Regions from separate parts of the Homo sapiens genome. Here region 1 is linked to region 2. Evidence: fine-mapped expression QTL. Tissue or cell type: subcutaneous fat. Region 2 holds a variant in brackets; the other region holds the start of a gene. All regions are shown on one strand. Distances are from middle to middle.

Region 1 (9,974 bases), 980 kb before region 2:
TTCCTCTTTATCACATCTAGAGCTAGAAAATTATTGAAATAAAGGGGTTGATGGTACTCACAGTGAATGCCGCCAAAGAATCATAAGACATGCCCACCAACTAGCCTTTTCCAAATAGCACTATCTCCCAACTTAAACAGCTTCTCCGAAAAGATGCTATTTGAAAAGCCTGGGGTATTGATATGAATATGACCTCCCTTGCATCCTGGATATTTGGAACTATTTAAATCTGAGGTAACCGTTGCAGCGAACCTTTATTTAGTGAATAAAAGTTTAAAGCCAAAGGTTATTTATGGTTCTGCAGAGATGGGACCTGAGTGGCTATTTACGAGCACGTGATTCCAATAAACTTTGTTTTATGGCTTGAGAGTTGACAAGCCAAAATATAATTCCCACCATAAATTAGGTTAAGAGCATACAAGTGCAGATGCTGGGTTCCTGGAGCAGCAATAGGAACGTGAGAGGCTCCAGCCAGCTCCAGGCTAAGAAGGAGACGGTTCTACTCCCAGCTCCCCTGCCCACTAGGAAAGAAAAACAGTAAGTCACTTATTACTTTTTCCACAACAACTTCAGAGGTGGGAGATTTCTCTGTTCCTGACTTTTCTGCCTAGGATGGGGATAAGTCTCATCGAAGTTAATTCTAATTTTAGCCTAAACCTAAATTAACAAATAGAATGAGCATCTCGATCTCCCATGCCCTCCCTTCCTGATAGGGACAGTTAGGAATTGAGGGCTCTCACCTCACAAGAGGGACTTACTGCCCCTCTCCTCCCCCTTAAGAGCATCTCCTTCAGAAGTGGAATAAAACAGTGGTATTCTGGGTGGGGAAAGAAAGAGAGGATGAGGGTGAAGCTGCTTTGTCCCTGAGATTTCTGATACTGCTTTCCTATAATAATATCAGGAAAGACTGAAAACTTAAAACTGGACACCAGCCTCTGGGAGGACCACTGCTTAGTAAGATTGTCTTCTGGGCTCTCCAGCAGCAATCCTGAAAAATTGATGTCATACCCATAGAGCTGGATAACAATCTAAAGCATTGCCATTCACCTTTAAACCCATTGATTTTCCTCCTCCTTGGTTATCATTTGGGTCCTCATTTCCCCCTGGAAATTGCTCTTTGTTTTGAATTGGAGTAGAAGTGGCAAGTCCCAGCCATGCCTGATTCTTCTTTGAAGAGGAGAAGACAGGTTTTGGGGGCACTGGTTGGGGCTGAGGAATTTGAAACCAAGCTGAAGCTGGAAAGGGAGGCTGAATTGCTCCCAGGGTGGGAGAGATAGGAAGCAGGGGTGAGGGGCAGATGGAGCGGCTACCCCCTCCCCAGTGGACCTGCACCCACCCGGCCCGATTGCGCAGAAGGAAACACACAAAGGCCCATTTTCTCCTCGCTTCTCGTTTTCCCACTGGGAAAACCCTGTTACAGGCGACCTGACTCGGGCCCAGTAACTAGTGAGGTTTTGCCCAAGGGTGCGTGGAGTGGGGGAGGCGATGGAGATCGAAATCTGTCATAATCCGTGGCTCTGCTCTTGAGGGACTGCGGTCTCCGGCTCTGCGGAGAACTTTGCGCAGTTCCCGGGGGCGGGCACCTGAAGCAGGGAGGTCTGGGTATTGGTGGGGTATCTGGGCCTTGTCATTTTTCTGTGTGTTATATGTGTCTGCTTTATTATCCTGTGGAATTTAAGTGATCCCCGTTTTCATTGCAACAGGTTCAGGACCATGAGAGAGCGCCGCTGTAAGTACCTTCCCGCTTCTTCCGAATCGCGAAGAGACGGTACTGATCGCGGGGAAGTGGTGGGCTAAGGGGCCAAGCCAGCGGAGTGGGCGGATAGAAGAAAGGCCCTGCCTCCCCCACCCCACCCCCACCCTCCACCCCCGGCCTCGCTCTGCGAGGTTAGCCCGCTTCGGGAGGTGGAGGCGCTAAATCGAGGTCCCGGAAAGCTTTTCTGGGGCCTGGTTCACAGACACCTGCCTGAGAGAACGGTCCGCGGGGTCTCGCCCTTGTCTCCTTGGGCCTCCCTAGACCTTCGCGGCCCTTCCCTGCTCTGCACAGGTGCAGCTCCGCCAAGGCGCTCACTTCTGTTAAGAGCTTGCTAATTAGCAGCCTGTCTTATTAGCGGCTTCAAACCAACGCAGTAAACACCAAGGCAATGCGGTCCCCTCCGCAGCCCAACCCTTCTTAACCTGGTCTAGCCTGGCCAACCTTCTGTTTTTAAAAAAATTCACTGAAAACAAAAACTCAATCCTCTGTGGCCGTGGGTGTGTTGAGTTGCCCGCTTCTGAGCTTTATGTGGACATTCCTTCCCCGCCCCTCCCCCGATCTGTTTGCAGCGGTGTGGGCCCTGGGCTTGGGACACTGGCTGAGCGAGGAGGGATACGGACCTTCTTTTCACCTCTGCTTCTCTGTAACTGCAGTTGGAGAATTTCCGCCCCAGAGGCGCTGGTGCTGCAAGGAGGCATAGGAGGGTGGAGTGGGGTGGATGCGGTGGGGTGGGGCCAGAGACTCGTGGGATCCTTGGCTTGGATGTTTGGATCTTTCTGAGTTGCCTGTGCCGCGAAAGACAGGTACATTTCTGATTAGGCCTGTGAAGCCTCCTGGAGGACCATCTCATTAAGACGATGGTATTGGAGGGAGAGTCACAGAAAGAACTGTGGCCCCTCCCTCACTGCAAAACGGAAGTGATTTTATTTTAATGGGAGTTGGAATATGTGAGGGCTGCAGGAACCAGTCTCCCTCCTTCTTGGTTGGAAAAGCTGGGGCTGGCCTCAGAGACAGGTTTTTTGGCCCCGCTGGGCTGGGCAGTCTAGTCGACCCTTTGTAGACTGTGCACACCCCTAGAAGAGCAACTACCCCTATACACCAGGCTGGCTCAAGTGAAAGGGGCTCTGGGCTCCAGTCTGGAAAATCTGGTGTCCTGGGGACCTCTGGTCTTGCTTCTCTCCTCCCCTGCACTGGCTCTGGGTGCTTATCTCTGCAGAAGCTTCTCGCTAGCAAACCCACATTCAGCGCCCTGTAGCTGAACACAGCACAAAAAGCCCTAGAGATCAAAAGCATTAGTATGGGCAGTTGAGCGGGAGGTGAATATTTAACGCTTTTGTTCATCAATAACTCGTTGGCTTTGACCTGTCTGAACAAGTCGAGCAATAAGGTGAAATGCAGGTCACAGCGTCTAACAAATATGAAAATGTGTATATTCACCCCGGTCTCCAGCCGGCTCAGCAGGCTCCCCCAATTTGTCTGGATAGAGCCTAGGCCCAGTGTCCCAGGAAGGTGGATACTTGGGAGTCTTTGGCATTCAGGGAAATTGGGGGGACTCTCCTGGGATAAACAGATTCTGCAGCCTCATAGCCCTTGTTAGAACTGGCGCCCCCAAAATCCCTACGAAACAGGTAAAGTGGTGGAAGCAAAGGATGGGGGGATGAGCAAAGTGCCAGGCTTGGAGGGGGAGTATCCCTGCCCCACCCCACCAGGCCCAGGCCCAGGCTTGAAACTAAATTTTGAATTATGTGGGAGGTAGGAAGGGCAATCAAGACAGTTAAAAAAAAATCTAACACCTTCAGCCTACAGTTAGGCACCCAAAAGCCCCACTCGAGCCAGGGCATCCCTGTGCCCCTGAAATCCATCGAGGCTCTGAGTGAGTCTGCGCTCTCCATGCCCTGAACTGAGGGACAAGCACTGCACAGTGCCGAGGCGCTGGGGCGGGTGAAATTTGTGAACTTTTGTACTCTTGTGTGCTGCTGTCGGCAAAGCAAAAATAATGAAAGTTTGTGATATGTTTGTAAATGATTTCGAATGACCCCTCGCCCTGCCCTTCACCATTAGCGCGCCGGCCTCAGCCCAAGGCGGCTCGGTGCCTGTGAGCAGCGCCTGCCTCGGGGTCTGCAGCAGCAGCGGAACGGAGAGGCCAGCCCGGATCAGGGCCCATGAAGGTAAATGCGCGACTTCTTGGAGAAGTAGCTTTGGCAGACAACCTGGCTTGGTCGGGCAGTAGGAAAAGGAGTAGACACAGGATATTCCCCTCTCGCTTCTTTTTCTTCTGCCGCTGAGGGCATTTGTTCCTTTCTGGAAAATACCACTTGGTAAGGAGGAGGGTTATTTGGATCCTGGTGGGGGAGGGTGGTTAATAAAGCCGCCATCCTTGGGATGGATTATTTTTCTTTCTTTCTTTCTTTTTTTCTTTCTTAAGAAGAATATTCTGGTTGTTCGCCTGCTTGGTAACCCTGACCCTGGCAGAAGAATGAGGGAACTCATTGCTTCAAATTGTCGCCAAGCCCATTAGGCTACCTGAACTGTCTCAGAAAGTGCGGGTGGCTGCGTCGAACGGTGGTGGCTCAGAGGAAGAGATTGGGGCCGGCAGCGACCTAGGTACCTCACTCTGGGTGGGACCCAGAGGTTGTAACGTTGTCTATATATACCCTGTAGAACCGAATTTGTGTGGTATCCGTATAGTCACAGATTCGATTCTAGGGGAATATATGGTCGATGCAAAAACTTCACGTTTCTTCGGAATAGCCAGAGACCAAAGTGCGACATGGAGACTAGAAGCAGCCGGCGCTGGTCAGCCGCCTCGTTCTGTTTTATTACCTTGGACTCCAGGAGGATCAGCTGCGCCTGGTGACATAGAGCAGCTTTTCCTCTCCAGAAGCTCCTCACCTTTAAACAGAGTATCCTCTGGGTGCTGAAAAGAAAGAAAGACAGAAAGAGAGAAAGAGAGAGAGAGAGAGAAAGAGAGAATGCAAGCCTAATTGGTTGCATGGATGCAGGGCCAAAGGGCTAGGTTTTGGGGTACTAGGGAGTGAGGTACAAGGCCAGCTTGCCCAGTCCCAGCTCTGCCCTCCAGGAACATGAGGTGCAAAGGTACCCAAATGGGGGCTTGCTTGTATTTGGGGCCTGTGGGAAGAAAGCAAGCTTCAAAGAAGCCCAGTGGGGAGCTCTAGGGTGCATTTTGACAAGGTGGAGGTGCCCTTGCCACCATCCCAGCCCACCCCCAGCTACATGGGCAAGGGCAGCGAGGGCCCCCTGCTATTTTGGCAGGGCCCAGCTTTGGCTGGGAACCCCCGGGCCTGGGCACTGGTAGAAAGCATGGCGGTTACTCATTGCCTAATTTGATTCAAGCTGGCCAGATTCTGGTAACTTTTGGGTGACCCTGATGAAGACAAAGCCAGGACGGCGGCCTTTGTATGGCAGAATCCCTGCTCCCGCCGGCTGCAGGCAGGGCGGGCAGGCAGGAACCCTCCTCGCCTGGGGCACTCTGCCCAACTCAGAGGCGAGTTCACCCACCCACCTTTCATTGCTCTGTACCCCAATAGGAGGATTCATTCTCCCTTGAGCTGTGCCTACTTGGTGTCGGGGGGCGGGGGTTGCATTCAGCTGGGGGTGAGTGGAAGGGCCACGGAAGGTTGGCAAAATCAGTGGCAGACAAAAGCTGGGATTACCTGAGGGGAATGGGGTGCTGGGGACTGGAACTACATTAATATCTGGCAGGGGCTCTCAAATGTGCCATAGCAAGCTACTTGATTACACGTATGTTATTTAGTTAAATTTGTGAAAATTATGAGATGCTCACCAACCCGGTGATAAACTTGCTCCCTCGCCATTGGCTGGCCTGGTCACATGGCTGCCCAACTTTATTCAGTTGACAGCAAGTAGGAGGGCCCTATGGAAGGAGAAAAAAAGACAACACGAGAAAAATTAGTATTTTCTACCTTCTGAAATTAATGGTCATGAGTTCGTATATGGTGAACTCCAAGTATGTGGACCCCAAGTTCCCTCCGTGCGAGGAGTATTTGCAGGGCGGCTACCTAGGCGAGCAGGGCGCCGACTACTACGGCGGCGGCGCGCAGGGCGCAGACTTCCAGCCCCCGGGGCTCTACCCACGGCCCGACTTCGGTGAGCAGCCTTTCGGAGGCAGCGGCCCCGGGCCTGGCTCGGCGCTGCCTGCGCGGGGTCACGGACAAGAGCCAGGCGGCCCCGGCGGTCACTACGCCGCTCCAGGAGAGCCTTGCCCAGCTCCCCCGGCGCCTCCGCCGGCGCCCCTGCCTGGCGCCCGGGCCTACAGTCAGTCCGACCCCAAGCAGCCGCCCTCCGGGACGGCACTCAAGCAGCCGGCCGTGGTCTACCCCTGGATGAAGAAGGTGCACGTGAATTCGGGTAAGGCTAGGGTCCAGTAACCTTTCTGTCCACATCCCAGCCCGTTAGCCTGGGTCCTCTGGAAGGGGGTGCGAGTAGGTGGGGGCGTGTGGAGCTTCCATGGGCGCCGCAATTACTCTCCCCATAAATTTTTATAGCTGAGGGAGCAGGTCAGGACCATGTGGCTGGCTGCTCGGCTGTGGGCGCAAAAGGGGGTGGGGATGGGGGGGTGGGGGAGGACTCCATTTTCAGAGCAGGGGGAAGGCTGTGGAGGAGCGGGGGATTTCCAAAATGCTTGAGGGTTCCGGACCTGGTGGTGGGCCCAGAAGAAGGAGCACATTTGGGGATCCCGCAAGCCTGGGGTATGTGGGTGTGTTTGAGGAGGTGGGTGGGAGTGAGCGTGTGCGCCGGGGAGAGGGCGGGAGGGAGGAAGCAAGCGAGCTTGGGAGCGCGCGGGGAGGGCCGCGGGCCTCGGGGCGCGCCAGGAAGTGAGCGGCGGAGGCGAGGGGCCTAACTAGTGGCCGGGCGCTGACCTGCCTGTCCTGTCTGTTTTGTCTCGCAGTGAACCCCAACTACACCGGTGGGGAACCCAAGCGGTCCCGAACGGCCTACACCCGGCAGCAAGTCCTAGAACTGGAAAAAGAATTTCATTTTAACAGGTATCTGACAAGGCGCCGTCGGATTGAAATCGCTCACACCCTGTGTCTGTCGGAGCGCCAGATCAAGATCTGGTTCCAGAACCGGAGGATGAAGTGGAAAAAAGATCATAAGCTGCCCAACACTAAAGGCAGGTCATCGTCCTCATCTTCCTCCTCATCTTGCTCCTCCTCAGTCGCCCCCAGCCAGCATTTACAGCCGATGGCCAAAGACCACCACACGGACCTGACGACCTTATAGAAGTGGGGACCCTGGGCCCATCTCTCCCTGCGCACCAGGCTGAGCCGAAGCTGCGGGGGCAGGCCGGGCCTGCTGTCACCTCGCTGGGCTCTAAGGTACTGTGGGGTGGACCTGGGACAAGCAGGCCGCCCTCGGACTAGGTTAGCATCCTGCCCGAGGGCAGCCCCCTCCCTAGAGCGGGATGGGGATGGGAGGGGGGGCGGGATTCTCTCTCTAAGTATATTATATGGCAGGAGCTACTGAGAACATAAAATCTTGGCGAGTCATTAAACTTATGAAAATCACCGCTCTTGGATTTTGAATTTGCAAATGAAGGTTGGATGCTTTATCCCACTGTGAATTTGGACATTCTCCCCCACTCCACCCCTCCAGGGTGCTTTGTGGCTTAATAATGTGGGGGAGTTGAGGCAGAAGGTTGGCCACCCCTGTGCTAGGTGCTTTCAGTGGAAGCCAGAGAGCTGGGTCAGGATTTCTGGACTTTCTGGGTTGTCTATGGAATTTCATGTGATTAAAAAATATATATTTTGCTCCCAGTGGCCCCACCTCCAAAGAAATGGGTCTAAGAAGGAAGTAAAAATGGGTTATTTTATGTTTAGATATTTGCTTAAATATTTATTTGTTGGGAAATGTGGTACAGAAATAACTGACACCTTCATGCCAAAAATCTTAAAAAGGTGAAAGGGGCTGAACTTCAGGGAGCAGAATCAGAGATATGTGCACTTACTTCTGAACTCCACCCCTCCCCACTCTCTGGAAATGTATATAGGGGGGCCTTAACCCTTCCAGAAGGAAGCAAAGGATTCACTCAAAGTTGCATTCTTGAAAATATATTTCCACATGTGTTTTTTTCAGCACTGTGCTTACAACCAGTTCTGGGTGATTAAAGGAAAGGGAAAAAAACCAACAAATGGTCCAACATTTTCCTTCTGGGGAAAGAAAACAAAACCTCTATGCACTGGGTCATTAGATAATGACTGAATTTTCTGTTCCAACTGGATTCCAAATGCCCTAAATACCCTCATATAGCAGTGTTTTACAGGAATTAGTGTATGGCCTGTGTAGGGGAGGGGCTGTGCAGTGGGGAGAAAGTGGGAAGGTGAGGAACTCTTGCTTTAAGAAGGAAAAAAAAAAAACCCTAATTGAATCTAGAAGTCCACAAAAGTTAGCCTTAGAGTTTTTTTCCCCCTGAAGTTTTAATTTTTTTAAAAACCAAATCTAAGGAAGTTTTCCTCAGCTCATTAATTAGAAGCAGAATTTGTAAAAGTATAAAAGTTTTCAAGCACTCGTCTTTGCCTTGAGAATAGTGGTTTTTTAAAGAATCACTCTCAACAGGGGAGATGTCCTCTAGTCGTTTTTCTTCTGCCTCTCCTGGGAAGGGTTCAAAGTTCATTTTTCTAAAATGCTGACCCTCAAGCATAAGGAGGAAGAAGTCAAAGTTAATGGCCAGAGTTCATATACTCAGATGAAACCAGTCTTCCCAAGGCCTCAGGCTCCAAAAAAGGTTGTAGCTATCAAAAAGTGACCAAAGTGGGAAAGGGAGAAAGGATAAGCTTAAAATTTAATTTTAAGATCCAGAAGGGGGGTATTTTTTTCAGTACTTCAAAAACACTTTAGAAGGTTTCTGTTGTAATTTAAAAAATATATTTAAGTGGGAGGGAAAAAAGAGTTTCTCTGTAGGCTTGTTCTTTGGCTGTGTCTCCTGAGAGCTGAGGGCAGGTATTCACTGCAGTCCCTAGGCTGAAATTCCGCTTCTCTGAAGTGTCTTCCAAGCCTTGGTCTTTTGTATTAGACCCTGGGGACTGCTCTTTGTTTCTCCTTGGGGTGAGCCTGGCTCTCAGACTTGCACATGGCAATACTTGAATGTCACCACGTCGGGATATTAAAGATGGATATTCGTGCATTATTCACATCATTGTTTCTATGACAAAAAGCACAGAGTTCATACATAGTCAAGACGTCTTTTTTCTGACGCCCTCACGTTGAGAAGCTGAAAAGGTATTTTACCGAAGTTCGGGTAAATTACAGAATCAGGTTCATCCAGAGGACAAATTTTCTATTTGATTAGCTGTATTTCAGCCGGGAGGACTGACCTCTAAACCCCTAACCTTTTGGACTCTAACTACCCTTCTCTTCTTTTTTCCTCTCTAACATGGAGAGCAGTCTTTGGATGTACCATTTGAAAGGAGCCGCTATCCTTAGGCAAGTTGGAAAGTTGCTAAGCTGCTTTCCTAAAACCCAAATCTGTCTATACATTGAACCTTCTCTTTGAGAAGGGGAAAAAGGTATATATTTTCACAACATCCAATTACATATATATAATAGAGATTTGTTGTATAGATTTTCCCCCACCTCAGAAGTTCAGGTTACTCACCCCCAGTTTCATACCAAATGCCACACAGGCTTAACTGACTGCATCCCTGCCCCAGAGGAAAGCCAAGAAACATGTTTTCATGAGGAAAACCCAAGCTCCTTCTCAAACATAGCCCCACTACTTTGGAAAGTAACTTAATCAGAGAAACAACTTCTTTGTTTATAAGTCTCAGCTCTCCTTCTCAGCTTGGAGGGATTCTTTTGAAATGTTAATGGAGCCTGGATGGCCCAGAGTGCAGCCCCCAACCCTGAGGTCCCAGTCGGACCCCAGCATCCATTTGGGCCCACAGGAGTGGGCCAGGGAAGGGGTAGGGCCCCGTAACCACTTAGGGCAGGGAAGGAAATGGGTTTCCATCTGAGAACGTGCTTTGGAGAAAGCTAGGTGTGGAAAAGCTCCAATGCCCATTTGCTATTATTTGTTTCCAGTTTGTTCCTTTAAATATGAGCCAGAAGTGTTTGTGTTGGTGTTTTAAAAACAAAAACAAAAACCGTGTTGGGGTCCTGACTGGGGGAGGGGGAGAGTGAAGTGTTTGCTGAGGACATTGCTCCTCTGACTCCCATCTCACTTTGTCCATCGCAGCCT
Region 2 (9,974 bases):
CCACTTTATTGTTAAGTATAAGAAGAAAGAACACAAAATTAAATGGGTGAGTTGGGTTTTTAAGGTAAATGTGATTTATTACCCTTCTCTGTCAGTTTTGATAAAAAACCTATATGTGGTACATAATTCATGCTAGGTACAAGAATTTGCTATAAAATAAAGTTTTGGTCTATATACATATGCATACTTTTTTTTCAACATTTATTCATTGAGTTAAAGGCAACAATTAAATTCTACTTATAAAATCCTTAGTCATGAGAAGTCAGTCCATTTTGTGCCTAGACCTTATGGCCATTTCAAGAGCCACATAATGCCAGGCCAATAAAATTAAAAACTTGTTACTGAGATCTGTGAAGATTGCTCCTATGTTGCTATAAATATAAAACAATCATTTATTGTTTAGACACAGAAAGTGAAAATAAGTTCTATAAATCATTGGGTTAGCTACCATATGGTAAAAGCTTAAATTCAATATTCATTGTACTTGAAAACAGGCAATATGTGTCTTTTGCATGAGTTTAGATAGTGATGTGTGATCATAGTGGGGTAAGTGTTTCTGGCAATTGAATTTTCCAGGAAAGGGAAAATGCTTTGTGGGGTCAATTGAGGAATGTATAAGGTATCCTGAAGAGCCGGGACATTTAACAGGCCATCTCTTGGGGTAGGACACTCAGGGTTCCCCTGGTCACACAGATCACTGGAACAAATTGCTGTTACACAGACCTGGTGTTGAATCCCAGATATCCTTAGTTATGAGCATGTTGACTTTGAGCGAGTCACTTAACCTCTTGGTATTCCAATTTCCTCAATTCAAGTTGACCATGAGTGAATAGCCATGTTTTTCCCAGAAATTTCTAGATAAACCATTTTCTTCCTCAGACTCCAGAGCCCTGTGAATTTTAGATCCTTTTAAAACTTGGGAGGAAAACATCTACTTTCTATTGGTGTTGAATGTATTATAAATAATATGTGTAGAGTCCCTGGAACACAGTTAGTGCCCACTAACCGTACTGCGCAAATGTTCAGGAAGACAGGAGGAAGGCAATCCAGGAGAACTGACAGAGTTCTCCTTGCTTCTCTTCCCACTCCGTCCTACGTAGTGACTCTGAGCCTTTGAACTCCGGCTGCTGAAAAATGGGAGAGATACTTATTTTCTTTGATTAAACCACTGAAGGTCTGTGTAATTTTTTGAATGCCATGGGATTTTCAATTCACTCAAAAACCAGTGCTTATGCTGCTATGTTTTCATTACACATTTTCCTTACCTTCCCCAAATCCTAGCTTTATCCACTCTTTCATTTATTTGTGTTTATTCACCAAATCTTTATTTAACACTACTGTGTTAGATTTTAATGCGAGAGGAATTTTTTACACCTGCATTTCTCTAACTTCCCATATCTGAGGAAGCACCTGAAACACAGAGCTCAAGACCAGCACCACTTAGCTAAAAGTCTGGTCAAAAGATCACATTGATGATAATTGTAAATGAACTGACTATAGGGTCCAAAAGATTCCATGTTGCATTCAGAGTAAAATGCAACATGGCTTTTTGTGTGGCTCCTGCTGACCTCTCTAGGAACACCTCCCCCCACTCTGCACCAAATATTTTAGAGAGCTCAAGCATCTCTTCCTCCCAGAAACATTCCTAAAGTCCTAGCCTCCTCCCCATCTCCACTGTATCTACCACAAGGTACTCTAATTTTCTGCTGAACTGATCGCTCCTCCTAGAGGCCAGTGGTTCTCAAGCTTTATGGAGAATCAGATTTAGTGGGTCTGGGGTAAGGCAAGAGAATATGCAATTCTAACAAGTTTCCAGGGATGCCAATGCTGCTGGATAGAGATCACACCTTAAGAATATCTGCTCTAACCTACCAGTTCTAACAAGAAAAAAATCCCAATTTACTTTATTTTGTATCCCTGATACCTAACACAGTATGGCATACAGTAGACAGTCAAACGACATTTGTTGAATAGAAATAATGTATGAACTAGTGAATCCCTTGTTATTTTGTGTTGAATGGAATGACAAATTGGTCTCCAAGTGTAAGAACCCAAGACACTCCTCCATCAGTATTAAGTTACCTCTTATAATAAGTAGAGGGAAAGTGCTCCTCTCCTGGCCTCTGAGCTCCAGCATACTATCTGGTGCTGCTGAAAGTACAACTTGAAAATGCAATTTATTTTAGACAGGTTCTCACTCTGTTGCCCAGCCTGCAATGCAGTGATGCAATCATAGCTCACTGCAGCCTCAAACTCCTGGACTCAAGCGATCTTCCTTCCTCAGCCACCCAAGCAGCTGGGACTACAGGCACATACCACCGCACCTGGCTACAATAATTTTTGCATTTTTTGTAGAGATGGGAGTCTGATCTAAATTTTATTTTTAATACATAAAATTATGAAAGGCTTGATTTGGCTGAAGACAAAAATGTAAACAAACCTTCTCTATGGTTAAATATTCCTTCTTTAATAGTATTCATATGCAAATAAGTAAAAGAAGACAAGTAAGATACTGGCATTAGAAATATGTCTTGAAGGCCACTAAGTTTATTTCAAAAAAAGTATGAAGTGCTCTTTCCCAAGATCAATACCTTAAATCAAGTTGACCAAATTTATTTGATAATCTGAGAGTTTTGTTTAAAGTACAGATACCCAGGACCCTCCTGTGGAGAGTCTAAATTTCAACAGCATATAATGGGGCCCCCAGAAATCAGTCTTTTTTAACAAGTTTCAGGTGGGGCCCACATAGTGATTGCTTTAAGCTGCCCATCAATTAACTAACTAATTAACAAGCAGCTAGTACTGAGAACCACTGCAGGAACTCACGTAAAAATTTTCTCATGAAACTATTTTTGGCCTAATATTTTTCACCTGGAACAGGTTAGGTCATGGTGCAAAAAGCCAGGTTCTCAATCTGGAATGTTACTTTCTTGCCCTTTGGTTTCCTGGAGGGAATAAATGTGTAAGGCATTTCTACCACAGATCAAGTTTTGCGTCATGACACAATGGGGCATGAGCCACTCCAACAATAACAATAGAACCATTAGTCAAAAGACCTCAGGAAAAAGGGAAACCTGTCACAGGATGACGACAATTACCCAATTATTCTGAACATAAAAAGTAAACCTTTAATATTTGTCTTATGGCATCAGAACTATGGCATGATCTGGAGAAGTAATTAGCATATTGGAATTTTATGCTGGTACAATGTCAGGGTAAAATAAAGGTGGGCTCTGGAATGTACGGTGGGGAGGGTGGAACTAGAAATGGTCTTGCATTTGAGTACAAATATGGTGGTATCAACAATTAACTTTCCGCTAAAAAATAGTTTTCCTGTTTATACGTATGTACTGGTAGAAAAAAATTTGATGTTGTTAGATATTATGTTTGGAATAGGACTTCCTTTGAGATAAGGTTATTTAAGATGATAATTTTAATTCAGAAAGTGAAATGTTCTATCTTTTAAAAAATCAGATTATCTTGAAATCATACGTGCTTTCCTACCTCACTTCACTCACTTGCCTTCATGTTAAATCTCAAGAATAAAATCCAAGCATTTCAGCAAATCACTCTACATTGACCTCTGCCCAAAGATCTAGAGGAGGCCAGTCAGGCTTCGAAAGGACTGAGGCACTTCGGTTCATTAAATTGTTTAATATGAGCACTAATTTTTACAATCGTGTAATAAAAGTAGGTGTTTTCCAAAATGAACCGTAGACAAAGATAGAAAAGAATATATGCCTCTAGGACACACACCCATGGGGACTTTACAGCTAAGAAGTCGTTATTTTGCTAAAAATTAGTGTTGCAAAGTGCCATTCATTGTTAGCATAGCACCAGCACATAGGAGTCACCAGATGAATGTTTGATGACATTAGTTTTCTTTTATAACTGCCCATGTCTTTCATTAAACAATGACCATCAAAGAAATTATTTCTTACAAAAGAACAATTTGAGGAATGAGAGGCTGCAAATGTACAAACTACAGTTCACTGCATTTTTAATAAGAATTTTGAGCACAATAAAGATTTTATATCCAAATATATTATGAAAAAATGGATGCTAATGCTATGTTAAAAGGTTACCACACTAGGTTTATTTGCCTCTTTCTTCTTTTCTCATATCCTAAGTCATAGGCTTTAAAACAAAATCAGGTCTGAGATTCATGTAATCGTCCCCATTTTAGTGTCTGTGCCGTCTTTGGGCATCACTTGGTCCTGTCCGCCAGTGATCATGAAGGGAGCCTGGTCTGCACTGGCTAGGAAGGGAGGCATTGCAGCAGGCTCTGCCTCGGTCCACGCTTCACTCCCACCCGATCCCCCACTGACTCAGCTCATCTTCAACATCTTGTGTGGAAGATAAAATCATTGTGATGTACAGAAAAATCTACACCGAAAACAGGAATAAGAACAACCTCCCTCTCTCCTATCACCTGAATTCACATGGCTACTTAAAGTTAGTAAATTCAATAAAATTAGAGTTTAGTTCCTCAGTTGCAGTAGCCACACTTCCAGTACTCAATAGCCGTCTGTGCCTAGTGGCTACCATATTCATTATTGCAGGGATAGGAAGGTCTATTGGACAGCGCTAGTCTCCAGAGGGCCAGCTAAGGAGGGGAATAACGGTCCCCTAACCACTTGACACGTTAGCCAAGGAGGAGGAAAGAAAGAAACAGTGTAGTTCCCTTTTTTCCTTAGAAAACTGTTTTACTTCCACCAAAACTAGCCTGAGTGGATTCCATCCTTTCTCTTCCCCAAATCTTGCCTCCTTCCTGACTACAGTGGGGAAAGAAGTGGTAGTGTGTGAGAGATTTTGAAAGCAATTTTAAAAAACCAAAACAATGCATATATCTTGTATTTCGAATGGGCCAGGCACATTGGCACAGTGGCTCATGCCTGTAATCCCAGCACTTTGGGAGGCCAAGGTGGGAGGATCACCTGAGGCCAAGAGTTCAAGACCAGCCTGAGCAAGATGGTGAGACCCTGTTTGTAAAAAAAAAAAAAAAAAAAAAATTAATTAGCCAGGTGTGGTGGCACACACCTGTGGTCCCAGCTACTTGGGAGGCTGAGGCAGGAGGAACCCTTAAGCCCACAAGTTCTAGGCTGCAGTGAGCCGTGATTTTGCCACTGTGCTACAGCCTAGGCGAGAGAGACAGACCTCATCTCTTTTTTTTTTTTAAGTGATATGCCTGCATTTGCATTGCTGGCTCATGCTTGAAACCAGCTCACTGAGGTAACTTCTATATGGAAGTTGCTCCTGTAATCCCTAGGTGTTCCACATGGGCACATTGATTCAATTGAAGTTATTTTAGTAAGGCAATCATCATACTGATTGTTACTTGGAATTCGTATTCATGCTGCTTTAAGTAATAGCCTTTAACTTAATTTCAAAGCTTTAAAATAATTGTTTTAATATTGATGAAGACCGGTCTTGCTACCAATCTTAAATAAAAATCTTATTGGCAACAATCCTACATATATTAGAATATAAAAAGAATAATAACCAATAGTAATGAAGTCATTTTTTTCTTCTTCATGTCTGAAGAGCACACCCTTCTATTTCCAACACACATGGGTGAAGCTGAAGAGACTGACTATGGTAGACATTAGTAACATTCCCCCGTATTCAAGTGTTCTCCACTTCAGGACACACAAAGATTATAATTCCCCCATCCCCCTTATTTTATACATAGCTATGTAATTATTTCTGGCCAATGAAATGAGAAAAGGAAGTGAAATGCATTGTTTCCAGGCAAAAGCAGTAATTGGCAGTCTGTGACTCCATTTTTCTCTTCCTCTCTTTGATGAGCTCTGAAGTACTGCAAGGGCAGGTCACTATCTGAAGATGGTCAAACCTCCATCTCTCTAAAACATGATCTT[C/T]CTCTGCTGGCATAAGAAACTGTTAGTGTTACTTTGAGATATGAAACCAGATTTTTTCATGTGTCTGTCAGTTAAATACCATTATTTAATTCTTTTAGGGCTCTTTTTGAGAGTGAGTCTCCAATAAAACTCTATTAGGATGTGCTATGGTTGTTTTTTGTTTAAGGTGGAAACAGAGTTTTGCTATGTTGTCCAGGCTGATCTCAAACTCCTGGACTCAAGTGCTGAGCCTCCCATCTCAGCCTCTCAAAATGCTGAGCCTCCCATCCTAGCCTCCCAAAATGCTGAGATTACAGCATTTGTAATGCCACATTAAATCTTGTGCCATGGATTTAATCAAACACAAACACATCAGGCTGAGCGTGATGGCTCATGCCTATAATCCCAGCACTTTGGGAGGCTGAGGCAGGCAGATTGCTTGAGCCCAGGAGTTTGAGACCAGCCGGGGCAACATGTTGAAACTCTTTCTCTACCAAAAATCACAAATTAGCTAGGCGTGGTGCGGCACCTGTAGCCCCAGCTCCTCAGGAGGCTGAGGTGGGAGGATCACCTGAGCCTAGGGAGGTCAAGGCTGCAATGAGCCAAGATCCCACCAACCTGGGCTGTGTGCCTGGAGCTGTCCTTTCAGTACCATCTGAAATGTCATCCGTGCCCTGACACCACTGCTGTATATTATGTGCGTGTAGGTGAGCTTCATGTGAACCTTCCCTGACACGTCTTCCCTCCTGTGCTCATTGGAGTGGACCTCCATTGTGCATATCATGGTGCACTGTTAATTATTCATATTTAAGACAGAGAACTTCTGGGAGGGTGTCTTATATTACCCTTTTTCCTCCAATATGTAGCACTTTGTCCGAGAGAAGATAAGTACCAAATGTTTGCATGGAGAATGAATAAACAGATGTATTTACAAGTCTGCTCATACCTGGAATGATCTAGAGCCACAAAGAGCCAACTCCCTTTCTTTACAATTAACTTCATGTTATTGTTGCCATATTTTAACACTCCTAAGATGACTGCCAATTAGCATACTATATTATAAAGTAAGAGAATGGTGAGTCATTTGTTGAAAGCCTTTAAAGATCATTCACTAGCACTCAAGGCAAATGATATATGGATAAAAATAGCCAAAAAAGCACAGATTGGGATGATATACTAATATAATTTTAGAAAAATGATTCCCAACTTTTTAGAAGTGTCATACTTCGTAATTGATTATTGGGTTTTATGACATTTCCTTATCCCAGCCTTAAAATGCTGTTGTTTTATATATTTACTTTCAAAAGGCCTAGGTAAGTGATCAGTTTACCCATATATTTCCTTCTATTTCTCCTTTTCAGTTTTGAAGACAGACAACAATTTTCCTCTATGTTACTTTCAACTATTATGCTCCAACCACAGCAAGAGTAACTCTGAAAGGTTAATCCCTTGGTTCTCAACCTGGCTACATCTTAGAATCACTTGGGGAACTTTGCTAAAAACACAGATGCCTAGGCCTCACCCCCAAGAGATTGTGATTTAGCTGACTTGGGTATGATCCAGATTATTTTAAAAACCCTACAGTCAGGATTGAAAACTACTAGTTTAGTCAAATCATCAGTTGGAAAGAACACTGGACTGGGAATAAAAGGGTCACTCATTCATTCAATACACATGCTTGTCAGCCTTCTCACCACCTACTGAATACTATACTAAGCCCTGGGATGCAAAGATAAATGAAGCACAGCCCTAGAGAGGTTCACCGTCTGACTAAATAGAAAAGTAAATTACTTAAGTGCTCTAATTAAAAGAAACAGGGGACTATGACAGACCAAAGGAGGAGGGGAATTACTTAATCCTGGCTGGGAGGGTTAGAAAATTCTTTTTGAAAGAACTACATTGTCCGGGATGTTGAACAAGGTAGCATTTAACCTGGCAAGAAAAGGATAACAAAGACATCCAATAGAGAAGACAACATTCATGAAGTATAAAATTGTGATACCGTCAGGGAACTGAAAGCAGTTAATGTGTCTAGAGCTTGCCATTGGGTAAGTCAGGGAGGCAGCTGTGGAAGAGGAGGGGGAAAAGCAGGCAAGGGCCAGGTCATGACAATCCAAGGGGCCTCAGTTCTGACAACAAAGTCATCACAAGGTCAGAAGCCACCTGGCTATCTATGAGATATACAGTGACACCTGAAATATATTGCCACTGAATTGCGATATACACCTTGCAATGAACTCCTGTTCCTGCCCAGCAACATGAAGGCATGGCCTACAGGGACAGGCCAAGGAGTGGCTTAGAGTGCTTTAGCTCCTCTGTAATACCTGTTTTTATTCGCCTCTTCCAGGGGCTATCTCAAATGAAAACAAAACCTTGTTGTTATACAAACACAGCTTCAGTACAAGTCCTTGAACACCTCTTCCAACTGCAGGTCCTCCCCTGAGCCCCATCCTGCCTTTGAAGTGGTATTACATTGTGGTTCAGCTCACAGTTTCTGGAATCAGACCATCTAGATCCAGATTCTGCCTCTTATTACTTACCAGCATTATTATCCTGAACAAGATACTTAACTTATCTAGGCCTTAGTTTACGTACCTGTAAAATGGAATTATAAACAGTACCTCTTTCAGAGGCTGTGAGAATGCACTGAATGTACAGCACTAAGCACAGGGTCTGGCACAGAGGCAGCATTCCATCTGTATTCGATCTAAAGCTCCACTGCAATCAAGGTGGTCCTCACTCCAGCAGCTCCCATGTCACAGGGACATGAGTGAGAAATGCCACAGCTTAGGCCCCACTTCCAGTCACCTAAACCAGAATCTGCTTTTTAACAGGATCCCCAGGTGATTCACATGCACATGAAAGTTTGAGAAACACCGCCACAAAGTATTATCTAGCTGCAGCATTCTAAAATTTTAAATCTCAAAAGCGGGGAATGATCCTGTTTACTCAAAGTAAGAGTGCTGAAGGCAATGGTTCTCGACCTTCACTGGGCATCAGAATCACATGGTGAACTTCTAAAGAAATCACATATGCCTGGGCCCAACTCCACCAACCCTATGCCACCTCCACCTCCCTAGAGATTCTGATTCTGTTGACCTAGGTGAGTGGAACCCAGGCATCTTTTTTTTTCTTTTTAACAAAGCTTCCCACATGATTCTAATGATATTGAGACCCACTGGTTTAAAGAGAGCATTAAATTCTGACAAAGTCTACATGGCAACTGGGCTTATCAGGAAAGGAAGCTGAGTCGGTAAAAAGAAGCTAATCTGTGAGTTGAGGAAGCAGTTCCACTGAGACCTGCCAGGCGTTTAAAACCTCCGCTGTTCTCCTCAGGCTGTAACGGCCTTACCTTCTCCATGTCTGTACCTGTGGTTTCTACTCCAGTCCTTCACTCCCCCTCTCCTTAAATCTTGATGAAGGCGCTTGACTCTAGCGTGGCACATTCACCTCCATTGCACCTCTGTCTGCTTCCTCCCCAGCAGCAGCCCTCTATGGCTCAGGTACTGTCTGGTGACTCAGTCCGTACTGCCCAGTGCCCCACTGTGTGCTCACCCACATCCTATGTTTTTGACCCAGGGCTGGTCCTCGATCCTGGTCCTGATGAGAACTAGAAGACACTTTCTCAGGGCCATAATCCCGAGGAAGAAAGAATACAAACCTTCCCCAAAACACAGAAGGCTCAGCAGGCTAGGGAGAGATCTGCCTTCTTGAAGACAAGAGAACCAGCTTCTCCAAGCTGCAGCTGCTGACGGTTATGCCCCAGTGCTCCTCCTCCCAACTCCAACTAATTTTAGCAGCAAAATATCTAATAACACAGAAGAAAATTAAACAATTAAGTGTTGCAATTGTAATCTTTAATTTTGAAAATTTCATAGCAAAATGCTCTGAGATTGACCCAAGGGTTAGAAAACACTGATTTCAAAACTTGCTCTTATAAATTAAATCATTGGTTTAGTAGCACTAATTCTAAGTGCAATGGGAGGTCATTGAAGGGTTTGAGTAGAGTTCAAACGTAATCCAATTTGCATTTTTTAAAGACCCTTCTGGTTGCTGTGTGGCAAATAGAATGCAGGTGGCAAAAGTGAAAGCAGGCAGACCAGTCCAGAAGTGACT

Alleles and levels. Alleles are on the strand shown, and positions count from the first base shown. SD is a standard deviation of normalised expression in the study named.
In carriers of allele C in region 2, the expression in subcutaneous fat of the gene that starts at base 5,629 in region 1 tends to be lower than with T alone (small effect, 0.23 SD a copy in GTEx).

Evidence for each region. PIP is the estimated chance that this variant, and not a neighbour inherited with it, causes the effect.
Region 1: it holds the start of HOXD4, and the variant in region 2 is the best candidate, but not a certain one, in a credible set for the expression of HOXD4 in subcutaneous fat (GTEx, PIP 0.66).

The regions. Positions count from the first base shown.
Region 1 is chr2:176,145,922-176,155,895 of GRCh38, forward strand. HOXD4 (homeobox D4) reads left to right here and starts at 5,629. Exons shown (of 2, transcript NM_014621.3): 1 at 5,629-6,145; 2 at 6,687-7,305. The coding sequence starts at 5,713. The coding sequence ends at 7,021. It overlaps MIR10B (microRNA 10b), which reads left to right and starts at 4,382; the gene lies at 4,382-4,491. It also overlaps a transcript of HOXD3 not described here. RefSeq lists enhancers at 2,276-2,819, 5,348-6,081, 9,346-9,849.
Region 2 is chr2:177,121,543-177,131,516 of GRCh38, forward strand. The region is part of intron 1 of LOC105373760 (a long non-coding RNA gene); the gene reads right to left. Among named protein-coding and RNA genes, the nearest start is that of MIR4444-1, 86 kb to the right of the region's middle. The variant C/T (reference allele first, on the strand shown) is at 5,880.